Regions from separate parts of the Homo sapiens genome. Here region 1 is linked to region 2. A link means that fine-mapping ties the variant in region 2 to the expression of a gene that starts in the linked region. Tissue or cell type: unexposed skin. Region 2 holds a variant in brackets; the other region holds the start of a gene. All regions are shown on one strand. Distances are between the middles of the regions.

Region 1 (16,597 bases), 30 kb before region 2:
GTTTAAAAGTATACCTATTGTCCTGTATTAGAAATCTCCTATAACTTGCATTTTTTTTTTTTTTTTGAGACAGAGTCTTGCTGTGTCACCCAGGCTGGAGTGCAGTGGCATGATCTCAGCTCACTGCAGCCTCCACCTCCCGGGTTTCAGTGATTCTCCTGCCTCAGCCTCCTGGGTTGCTGGGATTACGGGCACACGCCACCACACTCAGCTAATTTGTGTGTGTGTGTATGTGTGTGTGTGTATGTGTATTTTTTTTTTTTTAGTAGAGACGGAGTTTCACCATGTTGGCCAGACTGGTCTCAAACTCCTGACCTCAGGTGATCCGCCTGCCTTGGCCTCCTAAAGTGCTAGGATTACAGTCATGAGCCACTTGCATTTTTTACATCCCATAAATACCTGATTGCTCATTCATTCACTGAATAAACATTGGTTGAGCTGGAACTATGTGTCTAAAGTCATGAAAAGTGCAGAAGATACAAAGATGAATAAAATGCAGGCCCCTCCCCTCAAGGGACTTGTTATCTAGTGAGGAAAAGAGATATATACCAAACAGACTACCAAGCCCCTTACTCAGTGCGTGCTGGAGGTGCACAGGTATGATGGGCACGCAGAGGAGGAGCCCCTGAGAGAGCAGGCAGGCATCCCAGAGGAGATGCTATCTGTGCTAGGAACAGGTCAGCCAGGTGATATGGCAGGTCAGGTCAAGGGGTGGAGTAGGCAAAGCCAGAGACATGAGAGACAGAGTAGGGTAGGCAGAGAGCCCAGGAAGATGGAAGACCCAGTCAACAGCCAAGGCAATGAGGGCCTGGATGCCTTGTTCATGGACTTGGGTATGCCTCGCAGGCAGTGGAGAAACGGACAGCCCAGTGAAAGTTTACTGCATGGAAGCCTGCCTTTACTATGCAAGACAGGGGGCAATGACTCCTAAAAAATGTATCAGGGTATCAGAGCCCATTTCTGAATGATTTCTTCAAATAAAAGTAGGACATCTTGGTTCTACAAGGACTTATTAACCTAATTGTGTACAATCCATTTACTCTCTGTGAACTCCACATCCCTCCTGACAGGTTATCAATAATTCCTGCTCCTTAGCTGGTACACAGGAATGCTGAAAGCATCAGGCAACAGCCTGCAGGGAGATGCCCAAACATAAGGCGCAACCCCTCCTTTTTATTTCACTGAATCAAATTCCAAATCACAGTTTCCTGGAGTTCTTATTCCTCACCAAGCTAAATCATTCCATGATGTCATTACCCCTTCGGCCCTGAATAGGGTATTTGAAAAAGCTGGATCTTAGGGTACAGGCTTGACTCCAGGCCAAGGGAACTGCAATGGGTGAGGCAGGTGCCAGGTGCAGCTCGGAGGTCTGGGGATGGCCCAGGGAAGGCTTTGATCTCTGAGTCTCTCGCTAGCCCAGCTTTGACTCAGATGTAAGAATAGGTCGGGTACAGAGGCTCATGCCTGTAGTCCCAGTACTTTGGGAGACCGAGGCAGACATATCGTTTGAGCCCTGTAGTTCAAGACCAGCCTGGGCAACATGGAGAAACCCCATCTCTACAAAAAACACAAAAAATTTGCCGGGTGTGGTGGCATGCATTTGTAGTCCCTACTACTCAGGAGGCTGAGGTGGGAGGATCTTGAGCCCAGGAGGTCGAGGCTGCAGTGAGCCATGATAGCATCACTGCTCTCCAGCCTCAAGGAAACAGCCTCATGGTGACACAGACCATGTCTCCAAAGAAAAAAAAGAAAAAGAAATAAAAAGGATGTAAGAATAAAGGTTCAGAGGGCCAGGGAGCAACAATGCACTCTACTACTCACAATTCATACTAATTTTAAAAGTTCACAAGCTCATCAGTGTGATCTATTTTTAAATTTTCAGATTCAAAAACTGTAAAACAAAGTATGAGTGGGGAAAGTATCAAAGCTGGAGGAAAATAAAGGGAAAAGGAAACAGAAAGAGTAAAGAGAAGGGGAGAAGGGTGGTGACAGGACAAAAAAAGGAAGGAGGAGGGTAAATGAAATGAGGCAGAAGAGAGGCAAGGACCCTGCATGCCAGGAAGCTTTTTTTTTTTTTTTTTTTTTTTTCTTGAGACAGTGTCACTCTATCACCCAGGCTGGAGTGCACTGGCCCTATCTTGGCTCACTTCAGCCTCCACATCCTAGGTTCAAGCAATTCTCCTGTCTCAGCCTCCCAAGTAGCTGGTATTACAGGCGTGCATCACCGCACCCAGCTAATTTTTTTTTTTTTTTTAACCAGAAAGATTTCGATCAAAGGAGGGGCTGCCATGACAGACAGCCTCCCTTGGCTTGCTGGCTCAGGCCTTGGAGTTCCAGGAGCCTGGCAGATCCCTACAGGTAAAGCCTGAAGAGGTCAGATTAGCAAAAGAAGTCTATTTAAGCATCCTTTTCAATGCACCTTTTATTGACTACCTACTTTGATCTGACCCCAATGGGCCCATTTTCTCCTCCCCCTTTGAAACCCCAAGTGCTTCTCCCTATCAACCCTGCTGCAGGAGGCTCCTCTAACATAGCCATTTCCTAAGGAGAAATCTGTGAACGTCCCCAAGCCCTTCCTGCATGCAGCCCTTCAACACATGCAAAAGCAGCTTCGGTAAGTCAGTCCCTGTATCTTTAGATGTCACCGGGGATCCGCAAGGGATATTCAATTACTTATCAATAATCAACCAGAGCTTTCCAGAGACAATTAGGAAAACTGGTCTATGTGGGCTCTTTTAAAAAATACATTATAAAAGTGCAGTGTTTTCATGCAATTGCCCCGTCTTCTACCAACCGTAAGCATTGGGAAGGGTGCCCACTACCTGTCGCTGAGACCTCACCAGCAGGGAACACACACAGGACCAGGGGCTTTGTGAATACTTGTGGAATGGATGAACAAATGAATTGACGGGTGGATGAATACAAACATGTCAGAGTACAAACATACAGGCAAAAATCAAGCATGAAAAATTAGAAACATATTATGTGAACAATCCACTCTGCATAGCAAACCCAACATGTAATGTGGTTTGGCATATGACATCATGAGCTTCCATCGCTGCCCTCGTCCCTCCTTCCAGATAAGCTGCTGCTTCCGCAGCGGATATAACTCTTCTTATTGTGTTTGGACTCCAATCCCATGTGAACACACAGCTGCACAGTCCAGGATGCAGCCTGGCCAGGTCAAGAAGCAAAAAGCCAGCTGGGAGTCGTGCCCACTTTGGGAAGAACGCACAGATCCCCAACACGGGCTCCAGGTGTCAGCAGAAGGCCCTGATGTTCTACAGACATGTGATGCCTATAATCAAAGATCCTCCATTCAAAGGCACGGGACTCTCACACCTGGAAATGTGCTCAGAGAATACCCCGCACCATTTTATTTTCCTACGGATGGGAGTATCTACACACAAAAACCGCTCACCCCCAACACTCTTCATTTGTCTAGCTAAACGGGTTGTTTTAAACAGAAATTCTGATAAAACGGAGAGGGCCATCATGTCAAGGAAAGTTGCTGTTTTATAAACTAGAATAATGGATCAAGCCTTGGAGTCCCTAAAGAGAGAGGATCTCTTGAGCCCAAGAGTTCGAGGCTGCAGTGAGCTGTAGTGCTGCCACTATACTCCAGCCTGGACCACAGTGTAAGACCCGGTCTCTAAAAAAAAAAAAAAATTTATATCAGTTGGATATGGTGATGTGTGCCTACAGTCCTAGCTACCTGGGAGACTGAGGCAGGAGGACTGCTTGAGCCCAGGGGTTTGAGGCTTTAGTGAGCTATGATGGCACCTGTGAAAAGCTACTGCACTCCAGCCTGAGCAACAGAATGAGACCCTGGGAAAAAAAAAAGAAAAGAAGGAAAGAAAGAAAGAAAGAGAAAAAAGAAAGAAAGAAAAAAAGTATCTAGCATCCACTTGAAATCTATTTTTAAATTGTTGGATTTTAAACAATCTTAGTTTGTAAGGTATAAAATTGACTATGCTTACCACTGTATAATATATTTACAGATTAATTTAATAAGCCTTTACTAAATGCATGTACAGACAGGTGTCAGAGGTGTATTATAGTTTACATAAACTGGTAACTTCCAACTTAAAAAAAATAAATAAACATCTTCATCTCTGGTGGTTCTGCATGAGGCAATGTTTGAATAAGGTAAACTGCTGTCTTCTGAATTATCTTTTGAATATTGAATACTAAAAATAAAGGGAAAACAATAAATATCAAATTTCTGATCTGAAGTCCATGACTACAAGAGGAGTTACACTTGTTTTGATGTCGTTCAGCCTTTTGAACCCAGCCGACAAGAATGTGTTGAGTAACCACTGTTTTCCATGTGCTACGTGAGGCACTGGGAAGCTGAGATAAAACACACAGTCTATGAAGGAGTTCCAGTCTAGTTCTAGCTCCAAATAATTTAAATCACCTTTAAGATCCCATCTTGTCATTTAATCTCAAAACACATCAATTGCAGCCATGCAGGACAACCATAGCTGCACACGCTAGAATGGCGGGTGGCCTCGGGTCCGTCAATCACACCAGTGTGGGGACCAAGGGAGACTCCATCCTGCATGCTATGGCTCTACCATGCCTTCCCTGAGTGAGTTACGAACACTTCTACACCTACAAAACGAAAACCACCCACTCTTCTTCATGGCAGGGGTCTCCTCTCACCTCCCAAGTGCGGCTCACTGTTCACTCTCCCAGCTATCTGAGGTGCCTATGACCCCCACCCCCATGCTGGCCTTTCTCTTGGCATCCAGCAGCTTCCATGAATGACTGGCCACCTCCTTCTCACTGCAGTCCTGCCACTCTGTGGGGTTTCTCTGGCGCACTGCAACAGGACTCTGTCCCGAGAGGCTTGCACAGTTCCTTCTGCTTCCTTCATTGACTGCCTGCTTCTTAGTGACTCCAAAAGTTGTATTAACCCAAGCAGACAGGTCTATTTCCTTGTTGACTGACAAGCTCCATATTTACATACTGCAAGGACATTCTGGCATTAATTCTGTTCACCCATGAAAACAGGGCAGCTGCTTCTGCCACAGACATCCCACATCTCACTCAAGACCATATGACGGGAGGATCTTGAAGCCGCAGACAGAATCAGGCTAGTAAAGGCGTGGGCCACCGAAGGCTGAGGATGAGTGTGAAGTCTAAGTTCACACCAGGCAAGACACCACCCACGAGCACTGGGATGGACCTGGGAGACCAGACGCTGCTCCAGACCCCTCGTGACATCCCCATGCAGAGAGCATGTTTTACAGCAAGAGGAAAGCCAAGACTCCCAGGAGCAAAGTAGTGATCAAATCTTAAAAAAAGGGAGAATGACAGTTGGTGGGGAGACTTTTTAAATAGATGTTACCAGAGAGCTGTAATAGTCAGGGTTTTCTAGAAAAATAGAACCAACAAGAGATGTACATAGAGAGATTTATCGCAATGATTTAGCTCACACAATTACGAAGGTGAAAAAGTCCCAAGACCTGCAGTCAGTAGGCTGGAGACCCAGGAGAGCCGATGGTGCAAATTGCAGTCTGAAAAGAGGAGACTCTATAGACCCAAGAAGAGCCGATGTTTCAGTGTGAGTCCAAAGGCGGAAAGGACCAATGTCCCAGCTCAAGCAGTCCGGCAGGGGGGCTTCCCTCTTACTCAGTTTTTTTGTTCTATTCAGGCCTTCAACTGTTTGGACAAGGCCCACTCACATTATGGAGAGCAGCCTGCTTTACTCAGTCTACCCATTCATATGTCAATCTCATCCAAAAACACCCTCCCAGACACACCCAGAACATATGACTGAATGTTTGGGCACCGCATGGCCCAGTCAAGTTGACACATGAAAGTAACCATCACAGTAGCTAAAACTGAAATCCACAATTTAGGATAACAGAGGAAATTCACTTGACTCACCCCAAAGTCAAAATGCCAGCCTAGTCTCCAGGAAGACACAGTTCTCAGCCACTAGAGAAAGCACACGTGTTTTGTTTCAGATGGTCATCTTGAGGAAGCGAACTCAGTATAATGCAACTTGAGATGGACACTTAATAAATGTGGCTTTGATCAAATTCTCATAATAAAACCGCACAGAAGAACCCAATGTCTAATGTTTCCATTCACCCAAGCTCAAGGAACTTTGTACCTCAGGGCATCTGAGTCAGAGAGCCGCTTAGCGACTCAGGCCCGGTGCTGACAAAGGAGGCTGCCTGAGTCACTGAGGCTGAGTAACTGGCCCTCGGCACAGGACAGGAGTAAACTACTCCTGATATCTAGTCTGTTTTTTTTTTTTTTTTTTTTTGGCAATATTCTATTGGGCGTTTTTGACTGCAATTTAAATATCTTTCAGTACTGGAAATGGTTTAACACGCAATCTTGGGTCAAAGTATGCATCATAAGGCCTCATAGAAATATTCAAATGTTAAAAAAAATAAATAAATATTCAAATGTTCCTCCCGTGGTGCGTTTAGTGGTTAGAACTCAGGTTCTCCAGTTAAGCTGCCTGGGGTCAGATCTCAGGGCTACCATTTACAGCCCGGGAAACCCTGAGTTAAAGTTACTTTGATCTCTGTTTTCAGTGTCTTTACCTGTAAAAATGAGGCTATCAAATATGTATACACTGTCTATGATGTCCAGGCTTCTTAACAACCCTAACAAAAAGACAACATCATTGTCCCTGTTTCCCAGTGGAGAAAACCGAGACACTACGAGATTAAGTGACTTGGCCCAGGCTGCACAGGTTGAGGGACCCGGATGTAAATTTAGGCAGCCTACATGCAGTCCCCGGCATCCCCTAGCCTACTGCATCTGCCTGTGGCTATTTGTGAGACGGTGAGCTAAAATGAGACAGAACCTATGTGCCCAGAACAGTTTCTGGTCTGTAGTAAGCCCATCATTAGCCTTCATCGACATGTTATGGTGTAAACGCATTTTAAACCATGGCAGGCTAATAAACACCGTGGAAACACAATTCTGTGTATTAACTGATGATCTTCTAAACTGGGGGGTGATCTAAATCCAGTAACACTTGACAAAATTTTATATAAATGCACAATGAAATGTTCTTTGAGTTTGGTTTTATTAAAGTTTAATTGATAGACTAGGAATTCCTGTACTTCTAAGACTTGATGCAAATGGTTTTTGTTTTTTTGTTTTTTGTTTTTTTTTGTCTAAAACATCTTCAGGATAGTGCAAAACCTCTTTTCTTTAATATATTATTATAAAACACTCATTAGTAGAGTCAGCACCAAAAATGTGAGATGTATTGGGAGTTGTGTTTTGAAGACAGTTCTCCTGATTCTAAACCCAAATTGTGATTTATTACCTTCCAAAATATGTGGAAGGGAGTGCGGGCCTTAAGTTCAGTGATGTCTAAGTACACTGCTGCTTGCAAGCCAGCTACACATTTCAGCTAACCGGATTAGCCTACTTCCAGTTAAAACCCGACTGAGGATATGAAAATAAATATGACTGATTCATTTAAAATCAGAAAAACACTCAATATTTTCTTCCCTCTATTTCTGGTATGCTAAGATATCACACGAGTGCGACTTAAGAAAAACTTAGAATCTTTTCATTTAAAATAAGCCATTTTTGTTTTAACCGAATGGTTCAGTTATTAAATGTCTACCTGAGTCAAGGAGCGAGGTCACACTGCAAACTCCACTTATTTCTACTAAAGGGAAATGGCCCGGACTCCCCCGCGCAGACCACCGTGCCAGGACAGCCCGCTCGGGAGTCGGGCCTGGAAGCAGGCGGACAGCGTCACCTCCCCGCAGCCGCCGGCTGGGACCCGCGGCCAGCCTTTACCCAGGCTCGCCCGGTCCCTGCCCGCATGGCGGTGCCCCACCTGGTGAGGACGCGGGCTGCAGTCCTCCCTCTGGGGATGAGTCGGTGGGCTCCTCTGAGCTCCAGCGCCCCCAGGGTCTAGACCCCTCCCATTGCTCCGCTCCCCTCTCCCCGTGGTCTCCCCACCCCCAACCCCCAGGGTTCGGCTCTCCTCTCCCGGGTCTACCCCACAGCTCAACTCCTTTCTCCCGGCTTCTCCCCGCACGGTTCGGGTCCCCTCTCCCAGTGGTCTTCCCGGACCCACAGCTCTGCTCTCCTCTCACCAGTCTCCCCAACTCCGGCTCTGCTCCCCTCTCCTTGGGTCTCGCACCGGATTCGGCCCCCACTTCCGAGCCCTGGTGGCTAAGCCCCTCGGCCTCCCTCCGGGGCGCAGGGGGTTGGAGGTACTCACGGCACCGCAGCGGGCCGGGGACTCCCGGACGGGGCTGGAGGGCGCGGGCGGCTGGTGGCTGCGGCTCCGCTGCCGGCCGAGTGGAGCGCTGCGCAGCTCCCGCCCTCGAGAAACCCCGCCGTGTCATTTGACCATATAAGGAGATGCACGCCTCGGCTCGCTGGCACCGGGCGTGGGGCGCGGGGGGCGGGCGCCCCCAGGCCTCGCGGTTGCCGTGCCCCCGCCCCGGGCTGCGGCGGTCCCGGCCCGTACCCTTTGTTTGCCAGGGCTCCTTTCTTCGTGCCCTCCGGGTCTTGGGAGCACAGTAGTTATCGGGAGCGTCGCCTCCGGCGTGGGCTCTCGGGCGCGAGTTTCGGACGAGGCCTGGGCGCGGTGGCAGGGGTCTGCCCACGCCGGGATCTCTGCCTGGTCCCAGGAGCGGGAGACTGGAGAAGCCCCAGGACGTGCCGGGGGAGGCGGAGGGAGGAGGGGGTCACTTCTCAGGAGGCATGTGCCTGGGATATATTTGCAAGGTGGACGTTTTTCCTTCTTACCCTGCAGATGCTTCTTTACGAAATGAACACCACAGATGACCATAAAGAATCCTTCGTTCCACTACGGAGGGGACTAAAGGAAGGTCCTATCCCCACCTCTCCCTCTCGGGGCCAGAAGACTAGTTAGACATCTTGGATTCCCCTCCAGGGCGGGAAAACCAAAGTGAGCTGGGAGCGTGCCTCCCACATTCCAAGCCCGGGCCCTCTGCGTGACGCTGACGCTGGGTAGGGACAGATGGCACTGTTCAGCATTGTCGCAGGGAGAGCACAGGTTGAGCCCATCCCTGGGAGAGGGTGCGTCGTGATGGAAACATTTGCTCCTGAGCAGGTAACCGGTCCACTTGCAGAAACCGGTGGACGATGAGTAGGTGGACCACAAAGGCGTCCTCGGCACTTTGGGGGCAGGTGTATTATTTTTAACATTCGGGGCAGCTCATAGGAATACATCCTCCAGAGAAGGCGGGAAGAACTCCGTGATTGCTTTCTTTTAATTGATACTCTCCGTCTGGTAGGCCTCATGGGTCTCCATCATGGAATCACAGAACTTGAGAATAAAGGGGCTTCATCACCTTAGCTTCCACTCGGTGAGCACTAGCTCTACCTGGTATCTCATTTGATCCACACTCCTTTAAGGTAAAGATTTTTACCAGATTTACGGTGAGGAAAGTTCAGCTCAGATTTGCTCCAGGCCACGTGAACGGTAACTGTGCCAGCTGAGATTTGAACTGGGATGTGGTAGATGGCAAAGCCATGTAAGTATATTACGGGATCAGAAATGCCTCTCATCCCTCAGTCACTCAGGTGACTCCAGAGGACTGAGACTTGCCATAAGCCCAGCCAGAACTAGATGTGCGGAATACAGCCCTCCCCCGACCCCACCCCACTGTGTCCCTGAAACAGGACGCTTTCCTGAAGAACCTGAGTTAAGGCCACCCTACCTGAATTTCCACTAAGTGTCAAGACAGGCTAGTATTTTGAAATTCAGAGCAAAGTTTGTGTAGAAAAGGCTCCCAGCCCCTGACAGCTACCTAGATGTGTTGTTGATATCGTTACAAATTAGGAAATGGTCTCCTAGTTCTCAAATGGTGAGTCTTAAGCTTCAGTTTGTAAAAACAAGCCCTAAAATGATGAAACATTAATTCTGCATTTATCTTCTTTCTGATTCCTTTTGTCTTATATTTTAATTTTTTTTTTTTTTTTAGCTTTCTGACTTACGGGTGTAATCCATTTAGCTTTGCTTTTTTACTGATAGAGTTATTTAGTTCTGTTATTTTTCTTCTAATAACTGCTTTAGCTGTGTCACATAGGTTCAGCTATGTTGTGTTTTATTATTAAGAAATTCTGCAATTTAATTTTGTGTTTAATTTTTGACCTAATGGGTAGCAGAACATTTTAAATGACCCTGTGGTCATTCGATAGGGTCAGTAAAATCCGGACTCTGGAAACAAACATACCCAGTTTCTACAACAACGATGCACAAAGAAAAACAAGAGAGATGGAGACAGAACCAAGAGATTAAAAAAAGACTTAGCCAACTGCCATGTATGGATCTTATTGGATTCTTTTTTTTTTTTTTTTTTGGATCTTATTGGATTCTAATCAAAGAATAAACTAGTAGAAAATCAATTTTTATGAGACAACCTTGGAAAATATGACACTGACAGGATATTTTCTAGTATTAATGAACAATTTATGTTAGGGGTGATAATGTGATTACACACACACATATATTTTTCTTTTCTTAAGTCCTTGCTTTTCAAGAACAGTGCCAAAATATTTCCTAGTGAAATAACATTATGCCTGGAGTTGTTTCAAAATAATTTGGGGTGGGGAAATGGATAGGGCCTATATATATACGAAATACTATCAGCCATGGATTGTGGATAATCGCTGAAGCTTGATGATGGATATGCAGCAGTTCATCTTACTAGTCTGTCTCCTTTTGTAATGCTTGAAAAATTCCATAATGAAAACATTTTTAAATTACAGATGAACATACCATTTTCTCTTTACCCAGCATTTCCCTTTATAGGAAATTATCTTGTAGATATACTTGCTCCTGTGTAAAACGATAGACACACAAGAGTAGTCATTGTAGAATTGTTTGTAATAGAAAAATACTGGGCCATGTTATGTGTTCGTCAACAAGGGCTTAGTTAAATACAGTATGGTGCATTTTAGAATTATTTACATATGCGGCTGTTAAAATGAACGAGGTAACTATATTTACTGATTTGGCATGATCTCCAAGATAAATCAACTGAGAAAAATAAAAGTAGAGAACACTTTGTAGGTAGAAACCAACCATTTGTGTTCATGAGCAAAGAAAGGACGGGGGAAGACAATGTATATTTATAAGCGGTTGCTTCTGGGGAGATCTGAGTGGCTAGGGGTCATGGGGTGGAAAGGAGATTAATTTTTACTGTACACATTTTTATTTCTTGTAAATTTTGAGCTATGTTAATGTACTCATTCAAAAACTAAATATATATATACACGAATATATACATATATACGTATATATACACGAATATATATATACGTATATATACGTATGTATGTACATATACATGTATATATGTGTATATATACGTGTATATATACACGTATATATACATATATACATATACACATATACACACATATACACATGTATGTATATGTATATATGTATCTGTATGTATATATGTATATATATGTGTATATATGTATATATATGTGTGTATATATATATGTGTGTGTGTGTATATATATATGTATTTGAGATGGAGTCTTGCTCTGTTGCCCATGCTGGAGTACAGTGGCACTGTCTTGGCTCACTGAAACCTCTGCCTCCCAGGTGCAAGCGATTCTCCTGCCTCAGCCTCCTGAGTAGCTGGGACTACAGGCATGTGCCACCATACCCGGCTAATTTTTTATAATTTTAGTAGACACGAGGTTTCATCATGTTAGCCAGGATGGTCTTGATCTCCTGATCTTGTGATCCACCCACTTGGCCTCCCAAAGTGCTGAAATTACAGGCGTGGGCGACCATGCCTGGCCCAAAAACTAAATATATTTTAAAAATAAAAGCAACAGACTCCTTTAAGGAAAATAGGAAACAAATTTGTTAAACTGATATTAATAGTAAGTCAAAGGAGGATGGCAAGAAATTGAGGAGGGGAATGCAATTTCTGGGTTTAATGACATATGCTTTCATGAGCAATTCCATCGAAGGACAAAGTATTAAAAACAAATTTTCATGAGACAATCTAAGAAAATATGTTTTGAAAAGTTCCATCCATCTTGTACATCATTATATTCCTAGGACCTAATTAATTATAGAGCATGGCACATAGTATGTGCTTAATAAATATGTGTATTGAATAAGTGACAGATCACAGAATTGTTTGTGACAAGTCTTTCACTATAGAAAGCGTAATGCTGTCTATGGCAGCATAGCTTGATCTTTGAAGTCAAGCCAGGATTTGAATCTCTGTTCTATCTATGACTACTATGATCTCCAGTAACTACAAAACTTCCCTAACCCTCAGTTTGCTAGTTTGTAAAATGGGCTAATAACATATAGTCTGTGAAATTGTGGCGAAGGTCTTTTGAGATGCACATAAACCACTTAGAACTATTAACACATTACTTGGCATGAAGTAGGCCCTTTGTAAAGTCCTCTGTTTTATTCAATGGCAAAGGGGAAATTAATCCAGAATAAGAAGGAAATGGACTGAACTCCCACCAGAAGAAGAATTAAGGTTCAGATCCTGTTCAGATCCTGTTTCTTCTTGAGAGAAAACCTCTCTGCTATGGATAAAAGGCTAGTTCATGGAAGAAAATAAAAACAAAAAGTACTATTTCCTGGGGAAAGGATCAACGGTGACTGTGATCAGTTATTCAAGTTCTTCTTTTGTTTATTCCAATTATCCTGACATTCCTTCTTGAGACAACACTGCCCATAACGTTTTCCCGTCTCTCCTGTAGGTGGGCTTCAGGGAGAGGCACAGCTAGGAAGGGAGGAAAGAGAGGAAAAGACTTCCTGCGGCTAGCAGGTCTCAAAGCCTTGTCCCAGAGTGCAGCAGGATCCCCTGCAAACCTGTTAGAAGTGCACATTCTCAGGCCAGCTCCTGCTTTAACACGCCCTCCAGGTGATTCTGATGACTAAAGGTGATTTGAAGTAAAATAAATACCACTTAGGGCTTCCAACTCTGGACTCGGTAATTTACCAGAAACCTACGAAATGTCAGTTTAGGGCGTGGGGGAGGGACAGGGAAATAGAGATAGACTAAACATAGACTAGACTCAGGAACTCTAAAATCCAGTTGGAAGTATTACTTCCTCTGTCAGTTACTTCACTCAGGGAAGCAGGAGGTAGAAGTTTGAGCCAGGAGGTAGAAGTTTCAGCCAGTGGGTCTGAGCTGTACAAATGCTGAAATTTCATTCTCTGGGAGAGGCCAAAGAAAGGCAGGGCTTCTAGGCGTGTGCTCGCAACTGCCACCCTGTGGTGGGGTCGTGGGGGGGAGGCTGGTGGGCTAGACCCATCTGTGCAGGGGCCAACAGTAGCCTCCTACCCGGATGGGGGCTACCCCAGGGGGATTAGGATGAGCTCACCATTACCAGGTAGAAAGTGAACACAGGAAAACATGAGCTGGAGGTCAGACCGCCCTATGTTCGTTACCCTAACTGACCACTGCCATCAAGATTGTTAAGCATTTTGTCACCGTTAAAGGATTTCACACAAGCTGTTCCTCCCACTCAAACCTTGGCCAGGAAACTGGTGGATGATTTGCCCTTGATTCAGAGGCAATCATTCTTAATTGCCTCACATGGTTGGAAGGTGAGTAAGTGTCTAAGATCATAAATGCTGGCGGGAAGGGGTCAGGAGTGATCAAACCAGCACCCCTCCTGGCAGTGGGGTCAGGAGGCAAGTCCCTGCATGCCTTCCCATGACACAGTACCAGATCCCAGGGTGGTGGCACAGAAAGCTGGATTCGCTTTTTCTGGAAACACTATTTGCCCGGATCCAGCAGGGAAGTCTATGAAAGATGACTCTACGGGCAGGGTATGCACCTGCCTGTGCCCGTGAGCTGGGTGCAGTTGTGACGGGAGACCCAAGGGCCTCCAGCAAACAGGAGGAACTTGATCTGGTTACAGGAACGATCTTGCAGGATCCAAACTTTGTTTCTCTGCCTGTCAGACTTTCAGGAAAAGCTCAGCTTTCCACAAAGGGCAAGCTCTTTTCCTTTTCTTCTCCCTTCTGCCATGCTCTGGTTAGGAGGGAAAATGATTGGCTCTTTCTTGAGATACACAATTTCCATATCCCATTTCTTCCCTCTCTCCTTTTTCACAAACTATTTGTTGGATATAAATAATCAGTGTTTAAAGCCTCAAAACATGCCTGACTTTTAGCCAAATCCACAAACAACTCCATGATTCCGAGTTTCCCATCCTTGGTTAGAGTTTATTTGGAGCGTCGGATACAGTTTCCACTGTGGCTTTGATACCTCTTTAAGAAAGACTCTGTTTGGTACATTAATGACCAATAGAATGAAACTATTCACACCCATAGTTCATTTGGGCCAGTAAATGTTGCTGGATGGTTTCAGATGAAAAGTATTTGTAAGGTAGACTCTGAAAAACTTTGCTTCTTATTTGAGATCTCTTTGTCTCTGATTTCAGTCCTTTTCAGGAGCAATCCATTCACTTCTCTGCCTGCCTTCTCTTAGAGTTTTACTCTTTTTTTCCTCTGTCAATGATTCCAAAATCCATTTAAAGGAAGTATTAATGTCTAAAGTCTGTGCAAACCTGGCAAAATTCTCTTTTGAGTGAACGGTTTGCTTCCCTAAAATACCTGAAATGGGAGATTCTTCCAGGCATTTCTGAAATGGGGGAGTCTCATGCCTCACTTGTTCCTCAGAATGTTTATGTTATTTTATTTGAGACAGAGTCTTACTCTGTCACCCAGGCTGGAATGCAGTGGAGCAATCTCCGCTCACTGTAAACTCTGCCTTCCCTGATTCAAGTGATTCCCCTGCCATGGCCTCCCAAAGTGCTAGGATTACAGGCGTGAGCCACCATGGCTGGCAAGAGTGTTTATTTTAAACCACACCAAGATCTGTTATTCTTTGTGAATTAACTTTATGAGTCAACATTAAAAATTTGAAATCCCAAGTTCTCTCTTCACTGCCACCAAGGTCGTTTTGTGCTATTTCCACTTTGATTAGGGTCATTAACAGAAAATCCCAATAGTCTAACTAGAAAGAGCCTGGACTGGCCAGGCTCTAGGAGGCAGGGGGTGAACCCCAGGTCCAGGAGCTCCTATGGAGCAGTGTATGTGGCCACAGGTAACACCCTTCACCTTTGTATGTCTTCTTTACATTATCTGTGAAATAAAGAATGTACCACCTCTCTTCTTCCTTTAAAGAGTTATTTCACATTATCTAGTTTTTCCTCAAGCCACTTTTATGGCTAATTGACAATTGAGAATGTCTCCTGTGGCTAATTCTGCCCCATGGTACAGATTTGTGTGTGATGAAAACCTATGCTTTAAGTTCTAGAGAGCATGTTTAGGAATACCTTTCACCTATTTCAGAAGGTACTTTAAAATTGGACCTGGGAGTCATGACAGAGCTTCCTGGAACAACCAAGCATCTTTCTCCATCCTTGCAATAGTAGTTGACTGCTGAAGTACCAGAAACAGATTTTCTAAAATATCTGACCTTCAGCATCTCCTGGCAGGACTGTTTGGCAAAAATAAAAAAACCTTCAAAAATTCTGGGCCATCCTAACACTATAAATATACTTGGAATCGTGTGTACAGTCAGAGATGCTGAGCAATTACTCCTCAGTAAGACCAGAGGAGTCATTGTCTCCATGGAGGGCCGGAGGGGTTCCAGCGGTGAATCACCATCAGATATCTGAACTATTCATGTAGCCATCTTTAAACTCGAGGGCTTTTTCTTATCTTTTTTTTTTTTTTGGCCTTCCTTTTGATAACTTGAAATTCAATTTCCATTTGGCACATGGCTGTAATGTAATCTAGCTTCCCAGCCATTGCTAACACTTTCTGGACTCAGTTCTCTGTCTCACGCTCTTTGCATGGAGGGTCTGTCTGTATTGCTGTATTGCTTCTGGTCCCTTGAATTTCCAGGTCAGGGTAGAAGCAGATGGAAAGAATGCTTGAGAGGTTTTCTTTTTCTAAGAATATGTTTGGAAAATGATGAGGTCAGGAAAGCAGACACTGCAATCCTGCGCAGGAGAGAGTCTTTGAGAGCCCTCGCTGCTCACTCTCTTTGCACCTCACATGTTCTACCTGCGGCCAGTGAGGGGAGAGCCTTTCATCCTGTGACTGCTGGAACTCCCTTCCTCACTCTCTTCTGCCTGGTGGACTCCTGTTTATCCTTAGACCAAATAAGGTATCCCAACTAGGAAAGCTGCATGGATAGCCATCATAGCCTCATTTTTGACCAGTCCACTCCTTCTTTCCCATGTTTATAACAACAGAGGAGACTGTGAGCTCCTTAGGGGCAAGAACTGAGACATTTGAATCTGTGTTCACAGCACTTTGCAGCTTGATCAGTATTACTGAATTTAATTCAGTTTTCTTGAAAATGCCTAAGCTGCTGGGCGTGGTGGCTCACGCCTATAATCCCAGCACTTTGGGAGGCCAAGGTGGGTGGATCACAAGGTCAAGAGATAGAGACCATCCTGGCTAACACGGTGAAACCCTGTCTCTACTAAAAATACAAAAAATTAGCTGGACGTGGTGGCGGGCGCCTGTAGTCCCAGCTACTCAGGAGGCTGAGGCAGGAGAATGGCATGAACCCAGGAGGTGGAGCTTGCAGTGAGCTGAGAT
Region 2 (16,597 bases):
CAAATTATTCATAACTAATAGTAACATGAGGAAGAATCTAACAGATGTGGGGCAGAGAGAGGGATGGCGAGGAGGAACTAGTGCAGATATCCCTAACCTTTTTGGCACCAGGGACCCATTTTGTGGAAGACAATTTTTCCATGAATTGGGAGGTGGGGGGCAGAGGGTTTCAGGATGAAACTGTTCCAACTCAGATAATCAGGCATTAGATTCTCACAAGGGGCATGCAACCTAGATCCCTCACATGTGCAGCTCACATTAGGGTTCATGCTCCTGTAAGTATCTAACGCCTCCACTGATCTGACAGGAGGTGGAGCTCAGTGGGGAATGCTTCTCGCCTGCTGCTCACCTCCTGCTGTGTGGCTGGGTTCCTAACAGGCCATGAACCAAGTACCGGTCTATGGCCTGGGGACTGGGGACCCCTGAACTAGTGGGACAAGTTTTAGGAGAAAACGGGGCTCCATCCACACCATGAGAATGGGGCACTGGGGTTGTACAGAGCCAGTGGTGGCCCAGTGTCCCTGTCCTATACTGGATCCAGCTCATGAGACAGATGCAGTTTATGGTCAGACTCCATGTGGTCCAGTGCTCCCTTGATAAAGAAGGTAATCCAATGGGAAGAAAGTGAACTGTCCCTGGTCCCATCGTCACTGGGTTCTCTCTGGCTTGTAAGGACAGCCAGTTTCACATGGAATGTCTGGGACAGAGTCCACACAAATTTGATTTGGTGTCAGTGATCTGGGGCTTTGTGGCAATGTTCTGCCCTGCTTGAGGTTACAGGCCAAAGTTCAAAGACCAGCAACCCAAAAGCCTGGTCACTGGAGTGTAGATGCTGGGTGGAGTATTCACAAGCACGCTACAGAAGGCCCAATGCCTGAAGTTAAGACCATAAGCTCAACTCTCCTGATCAAAAAGACAAACACTATTCTCTTAACACAAATGCTGTCTCTAGGACAAATGCTATCAGGATGATGAAAATCAATTTTCTGCCCATTTTTTGTTGTTGTTGTTGTTGTGACAGATCTCTGGCAACAAAATGCTCCAGATGAAAGAAATCAAAATTAAATACTGTCTGCAGTTTAACACTGCCACCAAATTCCATCTTTAGGTTGATTTTTGTGTCCTCTTTATCAAAAGGCTGCTTGATTGAGAAAGTGTCTAGCTCAGTTATACTATGGCTTGCATTGACCAAGAGAGGTATCCCAGCCTCATGACACTGATATCGTAACTGTCAAATGGAGGCACTTCTGTGATGCAGAGGGCACAGTTCCATGCATGAGCTTGCAATGCAGTCTCTGCCATCAGGGACTCAACATTCTAGGATTTAGTTTTCCAGATCTGTTTCTTTGATTTAATGGAAAAGATGTTTCTATTACCCACCATGCTAGTTTTATATTAAGACCAGAGTTCACTGGTACATCTTTTTGTTCCCATCAGCTTTTTGCCCCTCCTGGGGTCCTGTTGCGTGCATTGGCAGCGTAGCTCAGAGGAGTTGCCCTAGGAAAGAATCACGGTGGAGGGCAGTCCTTCCCCACATACATGCAAGTCCTCCAACACCATGCATGTCCAGCAGCAATCTTGGCCGCGTTGTGGACCAGAAAGGAAAAGCCATAGTAAGAAACAGCTGTTTGGCTTGAAGATGTGTTGGTTTGCTTATGTTTGTAACTTGTTTGCTTTTATGCTTTGGGTTTTCAAGATGCTGGTGTTATTGGTGAGAATGGCAAGAACTCCCATGCCTTGTGAACCACAACCAGCTCCTGGCATTCTCAAGTTGGTGGCAAGATGCATATGGAGGTGCATGTCATGTGCATGGGAATTGCAGGGGCCCTATGTGGATGGATCCTTGGTGCTTCTCAGATAAGACAAAACTACTTAGGAAGCAAAACTGTGATGGGAATAGTGGATCACATATAAGAGAAATATTTTTTTTATTTATAGTTTCCTCTTGGTTTAATTTACTTTTTCATTATAGGATTATAGCTCTAGATAAGACATGATCTACAAACTAAACCACAAGCCACTTAGAGACAACAGGACCATGAAAATCAATTTTCCGCTAATTTGTTGTTGTTGTTATTGTTGTGACAGATGTGATTCATCTCTGGCAAAAAAAAAAAAAAAAAAATGCTCCAGGTGAGAGAAATCAAAATTAAATACTGTCTGGAGTTTAATACTGCCACGAGATTGCATCTTTAGGTTGATTTTTTTGTCCTGTTTATTTTATCAATTGATTACTTGATTGAGAAAAGGATTGTCTGTATCAGTTATACTACAGGTTGCATTGTACAAGATACCAAAATCATTGCAGAACCACTGTTTTTCGTTCTGACAGTTTTACTCAATAGACACTGTACCTCTCAGATAACTAGGAAACGAGAGTAAAGTCTTCCGTCAATAATGTCAGAACACTAATTTACTCTCCCACTTCTTTCCTTTTCCTGCAGCTCAGACGGCATGGGAACCCATTACAACTCCCTCATAGTGGAAAGCAAGCTGAGGATGCTTGCATTGGGCCTGACTCAGGAAGTGGTATCAAGCGTCAGGTCCCTGGGGCAGCTCTTCCATTCCTCTCTCTGATGTTTGCCCCCAGAGGAATGAAGATTCTTCTAGATTTTAGTACAGAATGGAGGCTGTCAGTGATACCCATATGTTAGAAAAAGCCAACAGAGCAATAATGTCTCCAAAAAATGAAACATGAAGCTTTTAGAATGATTGGAAATTACAGTTCGATTTTGAATTATTTGCAAGCCACTTGAAGATTTCATAAACCTATTGCATCAACTCTAACAATAGTCCTTTACTGGTATAATTATCTGCATTTTGCAGGAGTAGAGATTGAGGTACAAACAGAGGACACATTTTGCTTGCCTGAGGCTTCGATGAAACTTCTGACAATATCAGGGGACATATTTATACTTCTAACAGTATTTTTAGCTATTTGATAGACAACAGTTGCTTCTCTTTTCAAAGATCACAGCCATTGAGGAATCCACCATATTTCTGTAGCAGGAAGAATGTTTATCTCTGTGTCTTGTCTTTCTGGTTAAAGGTATTTACTTCCATCACACTACCTGACTTCAAACTATATTACAAGGCTACAGTAACAAAAACAGCATGGTACTGGTACCAAAACAGATATATAGACCAGTGGAACATAACAGAGGCCTCAGAAACAACACCACACATCTACAACCATCTGATCTTTGACAAACCTGACAAACAACAGAAATAGGGAAAGGATTCCCAATTATATAAATGGTGTTGGGAAAACTGGCTAGCCATATGCAGAAAGCTGAAACTGGATCCCTTCCTTACACCTTGTACAAAAATTGACTCAAGATGGGTTAAAGACTTAAACATAAGACCTGAAACCATAAAAACCCTAGAAGAAAACCTAGGCAATACCATTCAGGACATAGGCATGGGCAAAGACTTCATGACTAAAACACCAAAAGCAATGGCAACAAAAGCCCAAATAGACAAATGGGATCTAATTAAACTAAAGAGCTTCTGAACAGTAAAATCAACTATCATCAGAGTTGAACAGGCAACCTACAGAATGGGAGAAAATTTTTGCAATCTAAGCCATCTGACAAAGGGCTAATATCCAGAATCTACAAGAACTTAAACAAATTTACAAGAAAAAACAAACAACCCCATCAAAAAGTGGGCAAAGGATATGAACAGACGCTTCTCAAAAGAAGACATTTATGCAGCCAACAGACACATGAAAAAATGCTCATCATCACTGGCCATCAGAGAAACGCAAATCAAAACCACAACGAGATACCATCTCATGCCAGTTAGAATGCTGATCATTAAAAAGTCAGGAAACAACAGATGCTGGAGAGGATGTGGAGAAATAGGAGCACTTTTACATTGTTGGTGGGAGTGTAAATTAGTTCAACCATTGTGGAAGACAGTGTGGCTATTCCTCAAGGATCTAGAACTAGAATTACCATTTCACCCAGCAATCCCATTACTGGGTATATACCCAAAGGATTATAAATCATTCTGCTATAAAGATACATGCACACATATGTTTATTGTGGCACTGTTCACAATAGCAAAGACTTGGAACCAACCCAAATGCCCATCAATGATAGACTGGGTAAAGAAAAAGTGGCACATATACACCATGGAATACTATGCAGCCATAAAAAGGATAAGTTCATGTCCTTTGCAGGGAAATGGATGAAGCTGGAACATTCTCAGCAAGCTAACACAGGAACAGAAAACCAAACACCACATGTTCTCACTCATAAGTGGGAGTTGAACAATGAGAACACATGGACACACGGAGGGGAACATCACACACCAGGACCTGTCAGGGAGTGGGGGCCTGGGAGAGGGATAGCATTAGGAGAAATACCTAATGTAGATGATGGATTGATGGTTGCAGCAAACCACCGTGGCACATGTGTACCTATGTAACAAACCTGCACATTCCGTACATGTACCCCAGAACTTAAAGTATATATATATTGTAGGGAAAAGAAAGAGAGATCAGACTGTCACTGTGTCTATGTAGAAAGGGAAGACATAAGAGACTCCATTTTGAAAAAGACCTGTACTTTAAACAATTGCTTTGCTGAGATGTTGTTAATTTGTAGCTTTGCCCCAGCCACTTTGCCTCAGCCACTTTGACCCAACTTGGAGCTCACAAAAACATGTGTTGTATAAAATCAAGGTTTTAAGGGACCTAGGGCTGTGCAGGACGTGCCTTGTTAACAAAATATTTACAAGCAGTATACTTGGTAAAGGTCATTGCCATTCTCTAGTCTCAATAAACCAGGGGCACAATGCACTGCAGAAAGCCGCAGGGAACTCTGCCCTTGAAAGCAGGGTATTGTCCAAGGTTTCTCCCCATGTGATAGTCTGAAATATGGCCTTGTGGGATGAGAAAGACCTGACTGTCCCCCAGCCCAACACCCGTAAAGGGTCTGTGCTGAGGTGGATTAGTAAAAGAGGAAAGCCTCTTGCAGTTGAGATGGAGGAAGGCCACTGTCTCCTGCTTGCCCCTGGGAACTGAATGTCTCGGTGTAAAACCCGATTGTACATTTGTTCAACTCTGAGATAGGAGAAAAGCTGCCCTGTGGCGGGAGACGAGACATGTTTGCAGTAATACTGCCTTGTTATTCTTTACTCCACTGAGATGTTTGGGTGGAGAGAAACATAAATCTGGCTTACGTGCACGTCCAGTCATAGTACCTTCCCTTGAACCTAATTATGACATAGATTCTTTTGCTCACATGTTTTTTGCTGACCTTCTCCTTATTATCACGCTGCTCTCCTACTACATTCCTTTTTGCTGAAATAATGAAAATAATAATCAATAAAAACTGAGGGAATTCAGAGGCCGGTGCCGGTGCAGGTCCTTGGTGTGCTGAGCGCCGGTCCCCTGGGCCCACTATTGTTTCTCTATACTTTGTCTCTCTGTCTTATTTCTTTTCTCAGTCTCTCGTCCCACCCAACTAGAAATACCCACAGGTGTGGAGGGGCAGGCCACTCCTTCATATATAATATAGATGTATTTGGTATTTGCTTCCTCTTCGGCAATGTAATGGCCACACTATGTCATCATCGGGGGTGTCTTTCTATCTTGCATGCAAGCTTTTACCCGGTGCATTTGTCAAAGTGCTCTTAGCTCTTGGAAAAACAGGTTCTCTGCTGCCATAAGGAAGTGAGAAGAAAAGAACTTTCCAGCTTTCTAAAAGGCAATGTGCATTCTGTCTTAGCCACTTCCCATCACCCCCAGCCCCACTAGGAAAAGTCAGTATTCATTTTTGACGTATAAAAGTAATTGCATCTATGTTACCTTAACCAGGCTCCATAATTCAAGTCAAAAGTAACCAAAAGCAGAATGAAAAACACATGGTAAAGAATGGAAACAGCATGGTCTATCAAAATACCTTTGCAGTTTGCTTTTATCTCTCCTTCCAGACATCCTGCCTAGGGTCGCTCTCTTCTGCTCTGCACCAGGGTCACCCTCCTCCCTTCCCTGAGCCAGCAGTCCTGGAAGGCAGCCTTTGATGTGAGGGCTCCCCACTCCTGCACCTACCTTCTGCAAAATTACAGGAAGAGGCTAGAAGCCCCTGTGCTGCTGCAAAGACCCCGAAACAATGCAGAAGGGGGGCCAGGCACTCAGGCGGAGATATTTTCCACTTATGTTGTGGCACAGAAGGGAGGTGCATGAGAACACACGCACAGCAACACCCAGCACTCCCACACTTAGGCACAAATAGTGCTGGGGTGCAGATGCTGCCGAGGAGGTGTGGGGTTGCTGAGAATTAGCCGGGTTGCTTTGAAGCTTCTCAGAGATCTCTACTCACATGGCCCTTATCACTCCTTGGTGAATGGTGCAAGGTTTTGGCTTTTTCTTTCTTTTCCTTTTTCGATAAAGACTTATGTTGATAGAACTGATCAAATAGGAAGGCATTTCGTTGGCTCTAGCCTAAAGGATCAAACTAAGCCATCTGCAGAGAATGGAGGATGCCTGAGAGGGGTGTGTAGGAGTAAGAGAGCCGCCCTTGGCACTGTAAGAATCCAGGCGAAAGGAAAAAGAAAACCTGCAAAGATGGTTTATAGCAGGGGACTGCAAATTTTGGTGGCTGCCCACACCAGGAAGTACATTTTTTACATCATAACCACATCAATCACCCTCACATTTAATGCTAGAAAAATATACTGTCATGAAAAAATTCTGGAAAGAATTTCTTACTATGTGAAAAGCATTCTATTCCCTTTAATTCTATTTTTTCCTGCTCTAGTCAATTTCATTTTGTTGTTAAAAATATGCTGATCTCAATCCACTGAACTGATTTCATGACCCATGATATGCACTATGAAACTCACCCGGAGCTTGAAACACTTCTGTTTCAGTGAAGTCTGGACAAGAGAGAGTGTCTTGTGAACATGTGGAGAGGGCAGCAGAAAAGCACCTCAATTTAGAACAATGTCACAAAAGAAAAGTGAGCTCCGGGGCTTGGGGGATGGAGGTGCAACTCTCAAATGTCAATAATCAATAGGATAAACGTGTCCCTGACTTTCGAACAGAGGCCCTTGTGAGGGAGTTACATCATTGGTCTGCCTCAAAAGAAACTTTATTCAGCATTTCTTGTCTTGCATGTGAAAGGAATGAGAGTGTTTGAGGTTGCAGGCAAGCATTTAGATGTTGAATAATCCCTCTAAACCATTGTGCTTACAGCTAAGGCAGCTTCACTAGGCCCTGGGTGCCTGGGTGTGAGGCTTTGGGCTCAGAGAAGGGACCCCCTCTGACAGGGCCCCGAGAACCAGCAGTTACACCTGTGGACCTCACATACTTATTAAAAGTGCTCTCAAAAGTGCCTCAGTTTGGACCATAAATTCAATAGTCACTCTAAGTATGAATAACTGAGGAAAGTATGTCTAGAGTATGCAGTCTACTTTATTCTTATTGCTTTGTCACAAAAACACACAGCCCATGTAAATTCACCTCTGATTTCTAACACTGTGATGCTCACATTAAGCAAAGGATCAAAGCAACTGGGTACCAGGTAAGTAATCCTGTTCTGAGAACTCATGGTCATAAAAGGTCTCAGTCAACTAGAAGCCTGCTGAGGGTGGCCCCTAGTCTTTCCCACCTGGAGGAACAAAGGTCCTTTTAGATTCCAGTCCTGGAGGCCCTGAGCCACCCCCAAGTGAGTGGAGGTATGCGTATATGTGTAAGGGCGGCCCGTGCCACCCATAGGTGAGGTCTGGACATAGCTCAGCTGACACAGATTTGGGAGCCAGGGGCTTGCTGAGCTGTGAACACCCCATCTTCCCCAAACTACAGCTCATCTCCAGCTTCTAGTTTCCCTGCAACCCCACTTCTTTTGTACCCAAATAATTCTCATGTCCTGTTGACTTGCTCCCTCCCTGGTGGATCAAACCTGGCTGGTTTGCTGGGCCTTGGAATTACCTTCGGGATCTTTCCATCCCTGAGAGGTTGGGCTCCTCATAGGCCGCCAGCCTGACTCGGAGGACCGTCTACTACCCTCTCCTGCGGACAGGCCCGCCCATGGCTGCCCCATGACCATGCTTGCCCTGTCCCTTGGCTTCGTGTGGGTCAGCTTGTTCTGCCACCTTGCTAGGCTGGTTCCTGGAGCTTCTATCTGTTGTGGCCTGGGTTGCCACGCTCTCCCTGGTCACCTGTGTGCCCGGACCCTGTGTCCCTCACTGGAGCACTCTGAGCTAGGCCGCCTCAGCTCTTCCTTACCTGCTCCTCTTACTGTGGGGATCCTGCTTCCAGGTCTGCCCTTGGCGGCTGCTCTGTACTCTGTACAGACA[C/A]CCTGTTGGATGGGAGGCATGTCATGGCCTGTCCCCATGCTAGGCTTTCATTTTTACTTTGTAACCTACTTTTATCAAACGTCTGTGGTTGCTTAAAAGTCAATAATATATTTGGAGATGGGGTGAGATGGATTGTTTTAAACCTTACCTTCATAAGATAAAACAATGTTGAAAGTTAACTGTGAGCCTTTGGCGTCCTATACTGCAGAGGAGAAGGGCAGAAGGGGATGACCTGTCCTGTTTAATGTGGCATACAAAACCTGAATCTGGGATCCAGAGGTTTCCACCCTCCCTCCACTGCCACAAGGGGGAAAAAGGACTTAATAAACACCAAAGACTTTGCCCCACAATATGATGGTCAAGAAATCGGCTGGGAGTCAAATCGCAGTTCTGCCTCTTAGTAATTGGTAGCAAAATGATGGTCTCCCAAAATGTGCACATCTGAATTCCTGGAACCCATGAATATGACACCTTACATGGCAAGAGGGGCTTTGCAGATGTGATTAAGTTAAGGATCATGAGATAGGGGGATTATTCTACATTATCTGGACATCCCCCAATGTAATCACCAGTGTCCTTATATATGAAAGATGGAGACAGGAGAGCCAGGGTGAAAGAGAAATGTGAAGATGCTATGCTCTGGGCTTTGAAGATAGAAGAAGGGGCCATGAGCCAAGGAACGTAGGTAGCTTCCAGAAGCTGGAAAAGGTGGGGAAACATTCCTTCTCTAGAGCCTCCAGAATGCAGCCCTGCTGATACCTTGATTCTGGCCTAGTGAGACCTGTTTCAGACTTCTGACCTCCAAAAATGAAAGTAAATTTGTGTTGCTTTAAGACAGTAAGTTTATGGTAATTTGCTACGGCATCCATAGGAAACTAGTACAGCAACTATAGCTCCTTAGTTCAGATACTTTTCTAGGTTTGTTCCCTCATCTGCAGCCTAGGAATTGTAATTGTCCCTGCACCAGGTGGCTGCTGTGAAGACGGGACAGTGCAAAGCAAGTCAAGAGTATGGGGTACTTTCTGTGATACAACGTGGGCTCAGTTCATGGTAGCCATGGCTGTTAGTGCCTCCTTGAATCCCTGCAAGTGACCGACAAGGTTACTGTTATTATTCCCATTTTACAGACGTGGTTCTGGGAAGTTAAAATCTTGCCTGGGCCCAGTGTGAACAGCAGAACTAGGACCTTGTGCCCTGGCAACCTGACTCGTCAGCTCCCACCTCCCTTCCTTGACAAAATGCAAGTGTAGTGGAAATTTTTAAAGTGAAGTTTAAGTGGTGAACAAGGGACATTAGACTTGAATCCTAACAAGAACACTGTGACCAGTGATAGGCATCGTTGGGGCTTAGCAAACGACACCCCAAAGTGTGGCGCTGTGGCTTGCTGAGTGCTTTGAATTGAAGCACACTGGAAAGGCCTCTGAAGCAAAGTCTCTGTCTGATCTTCTCCTGTCCTCCTCTTGTTTCCTTTCCTCCCTTAAAGCAGGTCAGAGAAGCCAGAACCACTCTTCCTCCAAAATAAAACCTAGAAATAGGCCAGGCGAGGTGGCTCACGCCTGTAATCCCAGCACTTCGGGAGGCCAAGGCGGGCAGATCACCCGAGGTCAGGAGTTTGAGACCAGCCGGGCCAACATGGTGTAACCTCGTCTCTACTAAAAATACAAAAAATTAGCTGGGTGTGGTGGTGGGCACCTGTAGTCCAAGCTACTCTGGAGGCTAAGCCATGAGAATCGCTTGACCCTGGGAGGTAGAGGTTGAAGTGAGCTGAGATCGCGCCACTGCACTCCAGCCTGGGCAACAAGAGCGAAACTCCATCTAACAAAACCCTAGACATATTACTTTAAGCTTTCCCCAGCCCTTTTGTGTAGGAGTTGGGTATAAAGAAATTCCCAAACCTACCTTGTCTGAAAGGAGATCCTAAGACCTCATTCCACAGAGGTCCTGCCCTGTGTCTGGGAGAAAAGACTGCCCCATACAGAGGCCAAGATGAATCAGAGCAGACAGGCCTTGCTGGGGTTCCCCACTAAGTCTGTTGCCATTAGGCCATACCCATTATGTCCAATCACATTTTTACACCACTGTACACTCTTCCTCGACTCTAAACATAAAAATGGACAGTTTTCTCTTTGATCTTTGGGTCTTCCTTTCTCAAGCCTCCCATATCACGAAATAAATTAGTTATGCTTTTCTCTTGTTAATCTAGATTTTGTGATAGGAATGCCTGCCATGACCCTTATGATGGGGAGGAAGAGTTTTATAACATTTCCCCTCTACAATATGAATTACAGTCAAAAAGTTTCTAAGATCTCAAATTAAATACATGAAAATAGATTATTCACAACTTCATCGTTCAACAGACATTTATTTAGCATCTAGTAGACACCACTCACTGCTGTAGGTATTGGGCATATCTCAGTGAACAAAATAGAGTCTCTGCATTCATTGGAGTTCACATTTTATTGGAGGAGAGATAAACATATATGTAGGTGGATGTGTATATGTGTGAGATAGCAAGTGAACCAGGGTAAGGAGCTAGAGATTGATAAGGAGTGTCATTTTAGATGAAGTGTTTAGGGGTAGCTCTCAGATTGGGTATGAATGAAGGAAGGAGGAAGGCATGTGATTGTCTTGGGGAAGAGTCTGACAGAGATGCCAGCAGGTGCAAATGCCCTGGGGCAGGGCAGTGCTTGGCACAGCTGGGTCAGGGCAGTGTGACTGGTGCCTCTCTAGATGGACAGAGAGAGAAGGAAGAGATGAGGTCAGATTCCTAGGGCCTGGATCATGTAGGGCTCTGTTGGCTATGGTTGGAGTTAGGATTTTATTTTGACTTGGGAAGCCATTGGAACGTTTGGGAAAAGGAGACACACTGTCTAATTTAAGTTACAAATATGATCGCAAATTTTAAACAGAGACCTGTGGTTAAATTGGGCTCACATTGGCCTCTGGGGTTGCCTGGCTGCTCCTGCCCAAGGCTGGCGGAGGTTTGCTGACACTTCCCAGGAAAGAGTGAAGCACAGCAGACAAAAGTAGAAGCAGCTCAGGGCAGCAGGCCAGGATCCTGCCGGAGCTCATCAGCAGCCAGAGTGGAGGATGTGCTGCTGCTGCTGCTGTTAATAAAAGTAGCTGAAGGGTTTATCAGTCCTTCTACCCAACTTTCATTATTCAAACAATGTTGAACTTGCCACTATGAGTTTCCAAACTGTCTGACTTGTGGAGAGCCCTGTCTTAATTAGAAGGTCCTCATCCCACTTTTCCTTGCTGCCTGCAGAGATTTTCCTTCTGAGAGTGTTTGTAGACATGAAATTGTGGGTGTGCTTATTTCTCCCCTCACTTGGATGATCGCCCATGCTGGTTCATTTGAGTCCCAACACATTTGCACCTGCTCATAGATTTTTGCATTTTCAATTTGCAGGAGTAGAGAAACAGGGACCTAAAAGGAGTTTGTCTCATGCACTTTCCACATCTCAGCTTTATGTCTTACACTCGCTATTATTTTTTCTCTGAACCTAACTGATTTGACTGTCTTGTTTGACCTCTGTCTTTGATTTTGGGATTGGAAGGGCATAACATTTGGCCATTGGTTCTCTATTCAATGTAAATAAAGTTGAAGGAAAGAGACTATCCTCTCTCACCTGCTTTTTCGGTTCCTAAATTATATTTAAAGAGAGCAAAATATTACAGTTTCCTAGTAAGTTAATTAAAAGATTCTGAAGAAAATTGGACGCTTTTCAAAAAGGAAGTTTACAGAGTTTAGAATTTTTTCAGCATTTCCATCCTCTTCTCTTCCCCCAACACAAACAGACTTATACAGAGGCACACACAGACACACGCAGAGACATGTGTACACAGAGACATGTGTGCACACAGGCACACTCACACAAACTAATAAATTAGTAAATGGAAGCTTTCAAGTCAGAGAATCTACTCCTTAAGCATACATTATCATCAAATGTTAATACTGATTGCGTCCAAAAAATTCCATGTAAAAAACACGTCCTTGTGCTACGTATTGAAAGGTAGGGAGTGAATATGAAACCTGGTTCCCAGCCAGGATTGCAGAAGGGAAAAGTACTAGCCAAGAAGAGAAACTTCTAGCTCCTTCCTTTGGATTTCAACACTCCTAGAACTCAACTGAATTAAACACAACAGTTTGGTTCAGCAAATATTTATTAGTCAGTTGTGCACTGTGTGCAGGTTACAGTGCTAGCTCTCAGGGTTTAACTAGGATGGATGAATACCCTTCCCAGCCTCTTGAGAAGGTGCTGAAACTAAAGGGAGAATTAAAAACGAAAAATAAAAATAAGTTCAAAGTCCTCATTCTTCTTCTTCTTCTTTTTTTTTTTTTTTTGAGAAGGAGTCTCTCTCTGTCACCCTGGGTGAAGTGCAGTGGCACGATCTCAGCTCACTGCAACCTCCACCTCTCAAGTTCAAGCAATTCTCCTCCCTCAGCCTCCTGAGTAACTGGGATTACAGGCACGCTCCACCATGCCCAGCTAATTTTGGTATTTTTTAGGAGAGGCAGGGTTTCCCCGTGCTGGCCAGACTGGTCTTGAACTTCTGACTTCAGGTGATCTGCCCACCTCGGCCTCCCAAAGTGCTGGGATTACAGGCGTGAGCCACCGCGCCCGGCTTCATTTTTAAGATGAGGTCCTTTCTCCGTTGTGGAGACTTTTCCAAGTTTCTAGTGGGATTAGTGTGAAACTGGCATTGCACTGCTTGTATTTAAATCTGGCTTCCCCTGTACTGCCTCTGTGCCCCTTTGCCTCTCAGTGCCTCGGCGTCCTCACCTGTAAACAAGGAAACCAGGAACACTCCTCATAGAGCCACCCTGTACATCCTGAGTGTGTGTGCAGCATACACAACACTGCTGCACACACCATGAGCACTCGAACGCCAACAACTATTATCTCTCTAATTCAGAGCTTTATTTTATTTTAAATCTGGAATCCAAATCAGTCCTATTCCAGATTCTTTATGAAAATGATTTTTTTCTTTTTTCCCCTTTTACTTTGGGGAGTCAAGAGACTTTCTTATTTCATCTTACAGAATGTTGAGTTTTCAAAATGTCCAAAAGAGAACAAAGAGAAGTGAGGTAGCCCTTGTCCTTAAGTCATTACCCACCCCTCAACACATTTAGCATATTTTCTGGTACCTTCAAAGGAATCCTATCACTTTCCATCTCCATATTGTTCACATTCCTTCTCACCTGTAATGTTCTCAGCCTCTGCTAATTTCTCCTTTCCTTGAGGCACCACGTCCCTTTCTCTGCAAACTTTATCCCAAGTATTTTAAAACATTCATAGATTTTGCCCTCAATACCTGAAGCATTCATTTATGTCATTCAAACCATGCTGTCCCTTGCATATGGCAACAGGGTTGCTCTTTTGCAATTGAAGTCTAATGCCAACTGGATCGGAAAGTACTGGAAAGAAAGACATTGACCAGGCACGGTGGCTCACGCCTGTAATCCTAGTACTTTGGGAGGCTGAGGTGGGCGGATCGCCTGAGGTCAGGAGTTCGAGACCAGCCTGGCCAACATGGTGAAACACTGTCTCTACTAAAAATACAAAAATTAGCAGTGGTGGCCTATGCCTGTAATCCCAGCTACTCAGGAGGCTGAGGCACTAGAATCACTTGAACCTGGGAGACGGAGGTTGCAGTGAGCTGAGATCTTGCCACTGCACTCCGGCTTGGGCAACAGAGTGAGACTCCATCTCAAAAAAAAAACAAAACAAACAAACAAAAAAAACAAGACATTATCTTTAACTTGGTTGCACCCTCGGCAATGAATAACATGGTTATAAGCTTCAGTTTCCTTCTCTGAAAATAGGAATAATAACAAAATTAATAATAATGTTTACCTATAGTGCTGTTGTATTAAATGAGCTAAAACATAGTTACTGGATATAATGATCTTTCAATAAATTTCAACTTTTTTTTTTAAATGGGGTCTTGATCTCTTGCCCAGGCTGTTTTCAAACTCCTGGGCTCAACCAATCCTCTCACCTCAGCCTCCGAAACTAGCTATTATTTTTAATAGACTAAATCATTCTGGTTGGTTATTTATGATTTTTATAATTGGTGGTAATAATTAGACTGTTTTATGTTTGCATAGAATTTTGCATTACGAAAACTTTCATGATCAGACTTAGTATAGAAAATTTAGTAAACTATTTAAAATGTAGAGAAAAATGTAACATTACTACCAATCTTATCCTTCAGAATCAATAATTTTATATATTTTGGTGTATTTTTTCAGTTCATATATTATGAATATTGCTTTCTAGTTTGAGTTTTAAAAATCAAAAGTTCTATGCAAACTTTATTTTTGATGGTTGCATATATTCCATACTATGGCTAATCATATTTTATTTAACCATACTTCACTTTTGAGCTATTGCACTGTTTATTGGTTTTAGTTATTACATATTATTACATATATGTAATGTTTTCATATAACCCATTGTGCCTTCATCTTAACCATTTCATCTTCCTACAAAGGATACGACTTGGAGTAGAACATTCAAATCATGTCATTTTCTATTTTGTGTTCATACGAAACCGTGAACTGATACCTTGAAATTACTCTAGATTTATCTGCACAGAACTAAGCCCAGGCAAAAAGCACTATGATGGCTTCTACTTAACGTGAAAGTAGGTGGTTCCCATAGCCGCTTCAGATACCATCTAGACATGCTTACTCTTTAAAGACCAGAATGACAGCACTTTGGGAGGCTGAGGCAGGTGGATCACCTGGGATCAGGAGTTCATGACCAGCCTGGCCAACATGACGAAACACTGTCTTCACTAAAAAAACAAAAATTAGCCGGACATGGTGGCAGGCGCCTGTAATCCCAGCTACTCGGGAGGCTGAGGCAGAAGAATCACTTGAACCCAGGAGGTGGAGGTTGCAGTGAGCCGAGATTGTGCCACTGCACTCCAGCCTGGGTGACAGAGTGAGACTCCTTCTCAAAACATAAATAAATAAATAAACAAACAAACAATAAAAAAAGACCAGAATGAAATTCTTGCACTTTCTTCTTAATATCTAATTATCTGCTCCTCCTTAATAAAACAGATCAAGTATGTTTTATGCATTGTTGCCTTGATATGGTCTTAGTTCAGTTTAATTTTTCAGTATTACTTTTTAACTATAACAAAAGTCCTGTGTTAAAATGGATTTTTATTCCTCTTTTCTCCATCTAAAATGTATCCATTAAATTCAAATGAAGTATCAAATTGTAAAACATTAAATTGCTCAGAACTTATGTGAGTTCTTTTCTATTTTTCATCCACATTTTAGTGTATTAGAGATTAAGTGAGGAGGTGCTGACAAATCAACGGTAATAAAAAAAAATCAGTAAACCAGATTTTGTGGGGTGTGGAGGGCATGCAGATCAAGGCGCAAGGTGGTTGAGTTTTTCATGATTCAAAAGGGACCAGTAATAGTGTAGAAGTCAATTACCAGATCATACTTTGAACTGATGTTATATTGCTATATTCTAATAAAATGTCTTATCTAAATCTTTATCCTTTTTTACTTCTCATCTATCCAACTATTATGAATATTTTAATATGTTGACTAAACAAATTGGTCATAATGATATATAGAGATAACCAATTTTCAAGGAATTAGATTTTGAATCTACAGTAAAAGACATTGGCCATAAATTGGAAGAAAGAAGATTAGCAAATAACTTGATTTATATATACATATATATATGTTTTGTTAATTATTATTTACAGTTTCCCACATAATTTAATGTTTTTGGATTCACCTTAAAATATCTCATAGTGGTATTTTTTTAAAAAAAACGAATATTAAGTTAATGGTTAATCTTTCAATCAAAGATATCTTAGAATGAATAAATAATTAAGATAAACAATTAACTGCAAAAATAGTTATCTTTGAGTAGTAAGACTATATATGATTTTCCATTTTCTTCTTTTTGCTGGTCTGTATTTTTTATAGTAAACAGATTATTTGTAGAGTGAAAAAGATATAAACAATCAATATAATTTTACCTCTTTCTTTGGTGGGGAGAGAATGAATTAGAATCAGTCTCTGGGCCATATCTTGTAAATATGAAACATTTCAGAGATCGGTAGAAAGAGTGCAGGTCCCTGTGCTTTAGGTCATGGGAATGCAGTGAGAGGCATGGCTTGGCCTGGCCTTGGGGATCTGAAATCAATGGAGAACTCTGGAAGCCCTGAATAGAACAATGAAACCTAAAAGTACGAAACCTGCTGAAAGGCAAGATGGTGGGTGAGCAGTCAGGGAACCCCG

Alleles and levels. Positions count from the first base shown, and alleles are read on the strand shown. Sizes are in standard deviations (SD) of each study's normalised expression.
As copies of C replace A in region 2, the expression in unexposed skin of the gene that starts at base 8,303 in region 1 goes down (small effect, 0.29 SD a copy in GTEx).

What was found.
Region 1: it holds the start of FHL2, and the variant in region 2 is fine-mapped to the expression of FHL2 in unexposed skin (GTEx, PIP 0.98).

What each region holds. Positions count from the first base shown.
Region 1 is chr2:105,390,749-105,407,345 of GRCh38, forward strand. It overlaps FHL2 (four and a half LIM domains 2), which reads right to left and starts at 8,303. Exons shown (of 7, transcript NM_001318895.3): 1 at 8,094-8,303; 2 at 5,899-5,949. RefSeq lists silencers at 8,037-8,256, 8,277-8,406 and an enhancer at 8,084-8,906.
Region 2 is chr2:105,420,541-105,437,137 of GRCh38, forward strand. It overlaps a transcript of FHL2 not described here. Among named protein-coding and RNA genes, the nearest start is that of FHL2, 30 kb to the left of the region's middle. RefSeq lists an enhancer at 6,869-7,370. The variant C/A (reference allele first, on the strand shown) is at 8,311.